Regions from separate parts of the Homo sapiens genome. Here region 1 is linked to region 2. A link means that fine-mapping ties the variant in region 2 to the expression of a gene that starts in the linked region. Tissue or cell type: whole blood. Region 2 holds a variant in brackets; the other region holds the start of a gene. All regions are shown on one strand. Distances are from middle to middle.

Region 1 (5,377 bases), 33 kb before region 2:
TTTATTTTTCATTATAAAGAATTTAAGCGGCTGGGCGCAGTGTCTCACTCCTGTAATCCTAGCATTTTGGGAGGCTGAGGCAGGTGGATTGCTTGAGCTCAGGAGGTTGAGACCAGCCTGGCCAACATGGCAAAACCCCGTCTCTACTAAAAATACAAAAAATTAGCTGGGTGTGGTGGCACGCACCTGTAGTCCCAGCTAATTGGGAGGCCAGCTGAGGCAGGAGAATCACTTGAACCTGGGAGGTGGAGGGTGCAGCGAGCCGAGATTGCACCACTGCACTCCAGCCTGGGTGACAGGGCGAGACTCCGTCTCAAAAAAAAAGAAAAGAATTTAAGCATCCACAAAAGTAGAAACAGAAACATTTAATGAACCTCTACGTGCCCGTTCCCCAGGTTCAACAATGGTTAATTTTTTATTTTTAAGAGACAGGGTCTTTCACTGGAGTGCAGTGGCACCATTACGGCTCACTGCAGCCTCAAACTCCTGGGCTCAAGTGATCCTCCCCACTCAGCCTCCCTAGTAGCTGGGACTACAGGCCCAGCTACCATCTGCCACCATGTCCAGCTACTTTTTAAAAACTTTTTGTAGCGACGAGATCTTGCTTTTTTGCCCAGGCCGGTCTCAAACTCTTGGGCTCAAACAATCTGCCCACCTTGTCCTCCCAAAGTGCTGGGATTACAGGTGTGAACCACCATGCCCAGCCTAAGAATGGTTAATTCATGGCCAATTTTGTTTAATCTCTACTCCATCCACTTTTCTCTTCCATCATATTTTGAAGTGAGTCTAAGATATTGTGTCATTTTATGGCTATTGCAGCGTGCAGGAAGAGGTATGACATTTTGGAAGATGAGTTGATGGGCCGTGCCACATGGGTATTGTGTCTCTGTGTGCCTGTACATACTCTCTTATGTGGAATTGCAATGGCTGATTTGACTCTTCCAAGTTGGGGGTCTTTTAAGGGCAAAGACCACCCTCCAGTGGCCAGGCTGTCTTCTCCTCCCCATGGAGTGCTTGGTATATGGTGCGACCGTCAGTGTGAACAACCTAGTTCCACTGGAAGAAAGAGGCCTGTTATTGGACCCTTTGGGCTATGGCCATCGAGACCACGGGTAGCTTTTCTGCTCAGGTCACGCTCTGATATGTTGTCAAATAAAACACAGGACACTCAGCTGGGTTTCAGTTTCAGATCAACAACAAATATGCCTGTAACATAAGTATGTCCCACACATTGCCCGGGGCATATTTATAGTAATAAATGACGTTATTTTTCTGAAATTCAAATTTAATCAGGCTTTTTTTTTTTTTTTTGAGATGGAGTTTTGCTCTGTTGCCCAGGCTGGAGTGCAGTGGCGTGATCTTGGCTCACTGCAAGCTCGGCCTCTCGGGTTCACGCCATTCTCCTGCCTCAGACTCCCGAGTAGCTGGGACTACAGGCGCCTGCCACCACGCCCAGCTAATTTTTTGTATTTTTAGTAGAGACGGGGTTTCACCGTATTAGCCAGGATGGTCTCGATCTCCAGACGTTGTGATCTGCCCGCCTCGGCCTCCCAAAGTGCTGGGATTATAGGCGTGAGCCACAGCGCCCAGCCCAGGCATCTTGTTTCTATCTATTTATTTATTTTGTTTTGTTTTTGGCTAAATCTAGTCAATCCTATCCTCTGGTCTTTTCACAGAAATCCTGCAGATCAAAGCCTTTGACCTAGGGCAGTGCTTTTCAAAGGGTGGTCCCAGGACAGCAGCATCAGCAACTCCTAGCTCAAAACAAGATCTCAGGCCAGGCGCGGTGGCTCATGCCTATAATCCAGCACTTTGGGAGGCCCACACGAGTGGATCATTTGAGGTCAGGGGTTCGAGGCCAGCCTGGGCAACGTGGTGAAACCCCGTCCCTACTAAAAAAAAAAAAAAAAAAAAAAAAAAACAAAAATTAGCGGGGCTTGGCAGCATGCACCTGTGATCCCAGCTACTCGGGAGGCTGAAGCAGGAGAATCGCTTGAACATAGGAGGCAGAGGCTGCAATCACCCGAGATTGGGCCACGGCACTCCAGCCTGGGCGAAAGAGCGAGACTCCATCTCAAAAAAACAAAAGCAAAAACAAAAAAATCCCAAAATGTCAGCCCCACCCAGAATGACGGAACCAGAGCCTCTGGGGGTGCTGGCATTTTGTGTTTGACCCCCTCCAGTGATTCTTTTGAGGGTCATTGACTGGAGAATGATGCCGATGCCATCACATTACCCGCCCCCAGCCTCTCCCGCAACACACACACAGCACATCCTGCTCTGCTGCGCACCCAGTGGCATGGACCTGGCTGCCAAAGGTGTAGAAGCATAAGTAACATCAGGGGTGTTACAAAGGGCTCTTTCCTTGGGTGTTTGTAGCTTCCCTTAGGGCTGCAGTCACTCGCAGACTGCTGGGCTCTTGGCCTCAGGGCTCTGTTCTGCCCGCCCAGATCTGTTCCTGAGCCTGCAGACGGCTGTGAACCAGAGAATCTATTCTTCAGGCGGGAGTTGCCAGTTGCGGCCAAGGGGGCGGGGCCCGGAGGCGGGAGGGCCACGTGTGCGGGAGGGAAGCAGGAAGTGACTGCGGGAGTGGAGCCGGCGAGAGAGTGGCAGCGGGGGCTGATGGAAGTGCAGTGGGGGCTGGAGAGGGCACCCTAGTGAGTTGGCTTTTCTCTCCTTCGGTGCCTTTGGTTGGGCTCGAGGCCCGGGGTCGGAGGCCATCAGGACAAGAGTGTGGGACTTGGAAGGGCAGCCACCTGGAGCTTGGAAGGGGGTACGCCTGGAGAGAGGAGGGGTTTGGAGGAGAAATTGGAGGCTTTGGCAGGTGTCGGGGCGGGGTGGGAGGGTGAGGGGCGGTGGGAAGGAAGTCCCCGGACCCCGGCTATGTCCCTCTCCAGGGTGATCTGGAAGGCAATGACATGCCTTCCTTTTACAGTCCTAACCCAAATCCTCTTCGTTCGTCCCTTCCTAGGCGGTGTGTGGGGGTACCCGGGATTCCTGGGAGCAGAGGCAGCTACAAATCCAGCTGCTCCCAGGCCCCTCCCACTTGCTCTGGCTGTTAGCTGGACCTCTGGAACTTGACTGGGAATCTGGTTAACTTGCAGCAGGTCTGGGTGGGGCGTGACAGTGTGCATTTCTAACTAATTCCCAGGTTGGGTGGTCCGCGGACCACGCTTTGAGTAGCGAGGCATTAGAGAACTTTTCCACAGTCCTCTCCGCCCAGACCTGAATCCTTCTGCTGGATTCCCCCTCGTGGAGTTAGGGCATGTGTGTGCAGCTCCACTAAGGCCCAGCAGCCCTAGTGCTGTTTCCACTTCTGCAACTTCACCAGCCTCTTGAACTGACTCTTGGAAGCGGAACAACAGGTTTAAAAGGGGGAGAAAGGAAATAAAGAAAACAAACCTGTATCAATCAGCCGGGAATGCCCATGTGCTGCTGTGGCAGGTGTGTACAAGTCTACAGGCTGTTGGCATGTTAAAAGTTGGAACGGTCAGAGAATGATTCTCCCTGCTGCTAACGAATCAGGGTTGATGGAATTAATATCCCCATCGTGAGGAATTCTGAGCCCCATTGTGTAAGCTGTGATGGAGATGCTGTGTCCTAAAGTTGTTACTGGTCTGCCGGTTAGAGAAAACTTCTTGTTCTCTTGGGACTCTGCCAGAAACTTTTTCTTCTCTTGAGACTCTGCAGAAAACTTTCTGTTCTTTTGGGACTCTTCTTTGCTCTTGCCAATCCCACATGGGGCAGGAGAACTCATTTTCTAAGCTCTTGGTATTGTAGAAGTTTTACCAGTTTTATTTATTTATTTATTTTTATTTTTTTTTGAGACAGAGCCTTGCTCTGTCACCCGGACTGGAGTGCAGTGGCGCGATCTCGGCTCACTGCAACCTCCGCCTCCCGGGTTCAAGCGATTACTCCTGCCTCAGCCTCCCGAGTAGCTGGGACTACAGGCACTGGGACTACAGGCACACACCACGACGCCCAAGTAATTTTTGTGTTTTTAGTAGAGATGGGGTTTCACCGTGTTGGCCAGGCTGGTCTCGAACTCCTGACCTCAGGTGATCTGCCCGTCTTGGCCTCCCAAGGTGCTGGGATTACAGGCATGAGCCACTGCGCCTGGCCAAGTTTTACCAGTTTTAATCTTTTGCTTTCCACAGTTTAATGTGCATAAGAATCCCCCATGGAATTCCACAAAATGCAGACCCTGATTCAGAAAGTCTGGGGTGAGACCTGAGTTTCTGCATTCCTAACTAGCTCCCAAGCCGGACCAGTGCTGCTGGTTCTCTGACCACCCTTGTAGCGAGGATTTAAAACAGCAAATAGAGAAGAAACTTCTCCGAGGGGCACTGGGCTTGCATTGCCCGTGATCAATGCTGCTCCTGTTGGGATGGAAAGGATGGTGGCCTCGGTCTTCCCTCTGTGTCCCTTTTTCTTACTCAGGAGGGTGCTCAGATATACATGGGGACAGGCTTAGACGGGTGTTTCCCTATCCCACTAACCACCAGGAACACCCACGAGCTCCCTCTGTTCTGTTCACCAGCCCACAAGATCCACATTGACTTTGGCCTGTTGGCAAATGTAAATTGTTTGCTCTCTTCTGTAGCTGTCAAGAGGCACATTCAAATACAGGAAAGAAAGGTGTTTTTGTTATGCCCTGTCTTGGATGATAAGTACTAAGAGGATGATCCCTTTGTGCTGTTCTTTGTAAATGCTGTTTGAAATTTTGTCCACAGCAACTCGGAATAGATGATTGGTGTAATGGTCCAGATGGCTTGGTTTAAAAACAAAGACCAACCCCTCTTTTTAGGGTGGCTTAGCAAGATGACGGATGTAAAGGGTAGTAGTTTTTTGAAAATGATTTTTTTTTTCTTTAATTGGCGTGGTCACAGTTTTCACAGTTGGTGCAGTTCGTTTAGAGTGCGGGAACTAGAGTCTGATTCCATAGATGCTATTTATCTCAGAGTTTCTGGCACAGGGGCTGAGCCAGGGCTCACCTGGGCTCACCTGGACCTATACCCTTCCTAGGTTTGAGCCTGGGTGTGTTGCTGAGCCGCTTGGCATAAGGGCTGCGTCCACACTCTGCCATGGTTTCCTTCCAGGGTCAATCGAGGCAGCGTCTTCAGCTCTTGATCTGCAGGCTCAGGGCTGCTGGCTCCTCACAGAGCACCGGGAACTGGCAGGGCTGAGCCCAGTGTGGTTGTGTCCAGCCAGCCCTCTGGGTGCTGGCAGACCATCAGGGAGATGAATGAGGCTTTGATATGAGGCCCTGAGCCCAGTGTTTGTGTACCAGAACACAGGGCTTTTCAACAAATGGGTTTCTCTGCCTTGTAACTTTCCACAGGGAGAGATCTGATTGTCATCTCAGATCCAGAATTTT
Region 2 (5,377 bases):
GCTGGGACTACAGGCATGCATCACTACACCCAATTTTTGTATTTTTTTTTATAGAGATGGGGTTTTGCTATGTTGCCCAGGGTGGTCTCGAACTTGTGAGCTCATGTGATCTGCCTGCCTAAGCCTCCCAAAGTGCTGGGATTACAGGTATGAACTACTGCGCCCGGCCTCATCTGAAGTTTTGATTGTCTTTCCAGGATTATGAGTTTGACAAACTAAGCACTCACTGGTTACAAACCATCCTAGTAATTCTAGAACAGTCGCCACACCATTATTTTTCCATAATTTGTTTCATTTTGTCTGTGGTATGAAGAGTCATGGAACAGAGGATTTTTTTTGTTTTGTTTTGAGGCAGGGTTTCAGTCTGTCACCCAGGCTGGAGTGCAGTGACGTGATCACACGAGGTCACTGCAGCATTGACCTCTTGGTCTCAAGTGATCCTCCCACCTTAGCCCCCTGAGTAGCTGGGACCACAGGCTTGGGCCACTACACCCGGCTAATTTTCGTGTTTTTTTGTAGAGATGGGGTTTCACCATGTTGCCTAGGCTAGTCTTGAACTCCTGAGCAGAAGCAATTCACTCGCCTTGGCCTCCCAAAGTGCTGAGATTGTAGGCATGAGCCACTTGCCCAGCCTGCACAGAACTTTTAATAATGGAAGCTTTAAGGACTCAGAAAAGACCAAGTAGTTGTCTAAGCCCTCTATGAGTCTACGCTTAATGTTGAATTTACATCCTTTCAAGTACAAGTTTTATTTCTCCAATTAAGATGCATAACCCTGTCCAATGAATAGGTCATCATAGGTGATTTGACTTGGATAAATCTTAGGGAGTTCATTCAGCTTCTATATCTTAACAATTTCACAATCAACTGACTTAGCATGAAAATCTGACTTAGCATTTAAGTAATTCTTGTTCTTTTGATGGTGGGTTAACAGTTTTATGAACCAGTGAGTTTCTTCATACGAGTTCTGAGAATTTTTTTTTCCTTGAGACAGAGTCTTGCCCTGTTGCCCAAGCTGGAGTGCAGTGGTGCAATCTCAGCTCACTGCAACCTCTGCCTTCTGGGTTGAAACGGTTCTCTGGCCTCAGTCTCCTGAGTAGCTGGGACTACAGGTACCTGCTACCACTCCCGGCTAATTTTTGTATTTTCAGTAGAGACGGGGTTTCACCATGTTGGCCAGGTTGGTCTCGAACTCCTGACCTTGGGATCTGCCTGCCTTGGCCTCCCAAAGTGCTGGGATTACAGGCATGAGCCACCACGCTCGGTGAGTTCTGAGAATTCTTACCCAGTTTAATGATACGATCTTAAAGTAATCACAAACCTGTACTTGTCAGAATCTTTTCCGTGAGCCTCCTTGAAGACAAAACTATATAGGCTTATAGTTGCTTAGGAAAGTACCGAGCAAACAACCGTCTGTGAGTGACAGGACTTAAAATGTCCATGGTTAAAGAGCTGTTGAAATTTCATTCAATAATGACACAATTGACAAGGAAATTTAGTTGTTTCTGTGGAATACAACCATTTAACATAATAACTGAAATTATGGCTGATCACGTATCAAATTTCTAAAAATTGTAAACAATTTTCTAGAACACATATGAGTAAAATTCAAAGAAGGTTCAGCATTACTTATTATTTGACAGTACTTCCCATATAATTTAGTATACTAAATAAGCCTAATTCGTATAATATCTCCCCTTTACAAGGTGAGAGATGTATCCTTTGAGGCTTTCTCAGGGCCCAGCAAGAGAATCCCAAAGTTAATTCTTGGTCAGAAAGACTAAATTTAGAGTTTGATTTTGGTTTAAATATCACCAAGGTTTAAAACATTTCATCAAAATGGGATCACAAGTAACTATGAAATAATAGTCATTAATTTAACCAGAGTGATAAAGACTTCAAAGGTGAATATAAAAAGCAACATATTTGGAGGAAAAACCTTAGCTCTTTAATAGTTTTCTATAGTTATCAAAAACCTGATAAAGACAACGTGAAGGACAAAAAGTTATTTTGGTAGAACGCAGTCTTCATTTCCTTTGCCAGTTTCCTAAAAGGTAAAGAAACCCCCCAACTTTTTTTTTTTTACCTTGTTTTCTTTTTTTTTCTTTTTTCTTTCTTTTTTTTTTTTTTTTTTTTGAGATGGAGTTTCATTCTTGTTGCCCAGGCTGGAGTGCAGTGGCGTGATCTCGGCTCACTGCAACTTCTGCCTCCCGGCTTCAGGCGAATTCTCCTGCCTTAGCCTCCCAGGTAGCTGGGATTACAGGCACCCACCACCATGCTTGGCCGATTTTTGTATTTTTAGTACAGACAGGTTTCACCATGTTGGCCAGGCTGGTCTTGAACTCCTGACCTCAGGTGATCCACCTGCCTCAGCCTCCCAAAGTGCTGGGATTACAGGGGTGAGTCACCACGCCCTGCTGATCACAATAAAATTTCTTTCACATGATTCACCGTCCACAAACCTCCTACAACCTTCTTATATTCCATCAGTTTTTTATTTATCCTATCTATACCTTCCCTCTTTCTCATTTTGGGGCAACCTGTCATTCTACGTTAGGGTGAAAATTACTCTTTTTTTCCTTAACAAAGACACATATTTCATACCTCATAGCTTCACTTAACAAAAACATATCTTTTTTTTCCTTGCATATGGAGTTGTTTCCCATATTATTTCCAGTTTTTTTTTTTTTTTGGAGACAGTTTCAGTCTTGTCGCCCAGGCTGGAGTGCAATGGCGCGATCTCGGCTTACTGTAACCTCAGCTTCCCAGGTTCAAGTGATTCTCCTGTCTCAGCCTCCTGAGGTGGCAGCCGCCCCCATGCCCGGCTAATTTTTGTATTTTTTGTGGAGACAGGGGTTCACCGTGTTGGTCAGGCTGGTCTCGAACTCCTGACCTCAGGTGATCTGCCTGCCTCAGCCTCCCCAAAGTGCT[G/A]GGATTACAGGCGTGAGCCACTATGCCTGGGCTTATTTCCAGTTTTCACTAGCTTATATTGATTAGAATTTTAAACTGTTACTAACCTCAATTTCTAGTGAAAACATAAGAAGTAAAACAATTTTAAACTGTTATATACTAACATTTCATGAATATACATTTGTAATTTCTAGAAATATGTGCTTCCTCCTAGAACAATGTTTTCATGTTTATGAACAAACCCAAATATATTCAGCTTCTCTATATTGTACAAAACCAAGATGCCAAAGTATTTATACTTGAAACTTATGTTTAGCAGTTAATGTTCTAGTATTTTAACTAAGAAATGACTCAGACATTTTATAAATATCTATTACTTTAAAATTCCAAATTGCTGCAAAAGATTTTTGAAACAATGACAAATTCATTTATAAACTTTTATGCTGTCCATATTCACCTAATTTATTCTTTTTTTTTTAACAGTTATTATTTAATTGCTCACTAAACAAAACTAGCCATTGAAAGCATTCAGGGAATGCCACCCCAAAATGTGTTGCTTTGGTAGTCACATTTTTGGTATATTAATTACTTTGAGTTGAAGGCAAAACACAGGGCAAGGCCTCCTGAGTTCTCTTTCATCTGCCAAAAGACAGATCCTACAAAAGGAACTCAACTGCGTCAGTCTTCTGAAGATTAACCCTTTTTTATTTTTTTGAGACAGAGTTTCGCTCTGTCAGCCAGGCTGGAGTGCAGTGGTGCGATCTCGACTCACTGCAACCTCCACCTCCCAGGTTCAAGCAATTCTCTTGCCTCTTTCTCCCTAGGAGCTGGTATTACAGGTGCCTGCTACCATGCCTGGCTAATTGTTGTATTTTTAGTAGAGAGGGGGTTTCGCCATGTTGGCCAGGCTGGTCTCAAACTCCTGACCTCAGGTGATCTGCCCGTCTGGGCCTGCAAAAGTGCTGGGGTTACATATGTCAGCCACTGCACCCGGCCAAGATTAACTCCTATCACAGGAGACGAGATCAGAAGGCCACCCCAGCTGGCCCATCATCCATTCTTCCAAGGACCTATCTATCTTTTCCGCATTTACTCTGCGGATATTTTCTTTATCCCCCGACTGTTTTCATTCTAGCAAGGGGGTTAAATCAGAGGACACTTCGATTACTCATTATTGCCCCCAGGGATTGTCAGCTAGCCTGATAACCAGATTTCAGGCCAAAATAGTATTATTTGCCAAGACAAACAAACACGCAAGCCTGGTGAAGACAAAATGGTGAAAGGCAAGGCCTGTGAAACAAAGTTAAGTCTTGACCTTCTCCATTTTGAAAGTTTCTAGTGATTTAGGGTGCAAAGAGGGACACACCCCACAAATGGAGACTTTTCCCACAGAAGTAAATTTCTTTTACAAAAAAAAAAAAAAAAAAGAGTCTAAAACGAAATAACTAAAATAACTAAAGATAGGCAGCTTCCCAAGCCAGCCTGTGTTTTCTTTTTTTGGAGATAGAGTCTTGCTCTGTCCCCCAGGCTGGAGTGCAGTGGCACGATCTTGGCTCACTGCAACCTCCATCTCTGGGGTTCAAGCGATTCTTGTGCGTCAGCCTCCCAAGTAGCTGGGACTACAGGCACCTACCAATGTTCCCGGCTAATTTTCGTATTTTTGTAGAGACAGGGTTTCACCATGTTCGCCAGGCTGGTCTCGTACTCCTGACCTCAAGTGATCTGCCCGCCTCGGCCTCCCAAAGTGCTAGGATTACAGGCGTGAGCCACCGCGCCTGGCCTCAGCCTGCATTTTCTAACTAGATTACTGAATTCAGGTGGAAACCCATTATGAACAGGGCTGAATTTAAGATTTTCACCAAACCATAAAAGTGGCTAAAGAAGCAGACCTCGTTGATCTGAGAGCTTAACTTTTATAAATCACTTTTATTTGTTTTTGTTTTTAAGATTGGAAGGTTACTAAGAGAAAAAGTAAATTCAGACTAGGCAGAGGAGGATAGAAAGATAGAGAAAAGGTGCGGTCAGAATTGTCAGTCAACATAAAATATTTTTTCTCATCAATGAGTCACTTAAGCTTTCTATTTGCCTTTTATAAAGAATCTATTAAAAGAGGCAATGTTTGATTCATTTAATCATTTAGATGCCCCTGCAAACCAGTTAAAAGTGCATCCTGGCCAGGTGCAGCGGCCCCTGCTGTAATCCCAGCACTTTGGGAGGACAAGGCGGGTGCGTGGCTTGAGCCCAGGAGTTCAAGACCAGCCTGGACAACATGGCGAAACCCCATCTTGATATACATGTATATACATCTCCCACAAAAAATTAACTGGGCATGGTTGCAGGTGCCTGTACTCAGGAGGCTGAGGCAGGGAGGATCAATTGAGCTCAGGAGGCAGAGGTTGCAGTGAGTTGAAATCATACCGCTGCACTCCAGCCTTGGTGACAGAGCAAGACTGTGTCTCAGGAAAAG

Evidence for each region.
Region 1: SLC39A11 starts here. The variant in region 2 is fine-mapped to the expression of SLC39A11 in whole blood (TOPMed, PIP 0.95).

The regions. Positions count from the first base shown.
Region 1 is chr17:73,089,891-73,095,267 of GRCh38, reverse strand. SLC39A11 (solute carrier family 39 member 11) reads left to right here and starts at 2,580. Exons shown (of 10, transcript NM_139177.4): 1 at 2,580-2,657. RefSeq lists a silencer at 3,420-3,651 and enhancers at 4,622-5,122, 5,123-5,377.
Region 2 is chr17:73,056,970-73,062,346 of GRCh38, reverse strand. All of the region lies in intron 3 of SLC39A11 (solute carrier family 39 member 11), which reads left to right. Among named protein-coding and RNA genes, the nearest start is that of SLC39A11, 33 kb to the left of the region's middle. The variant G/A (reference allele first, on the strand shown) is at 2,932.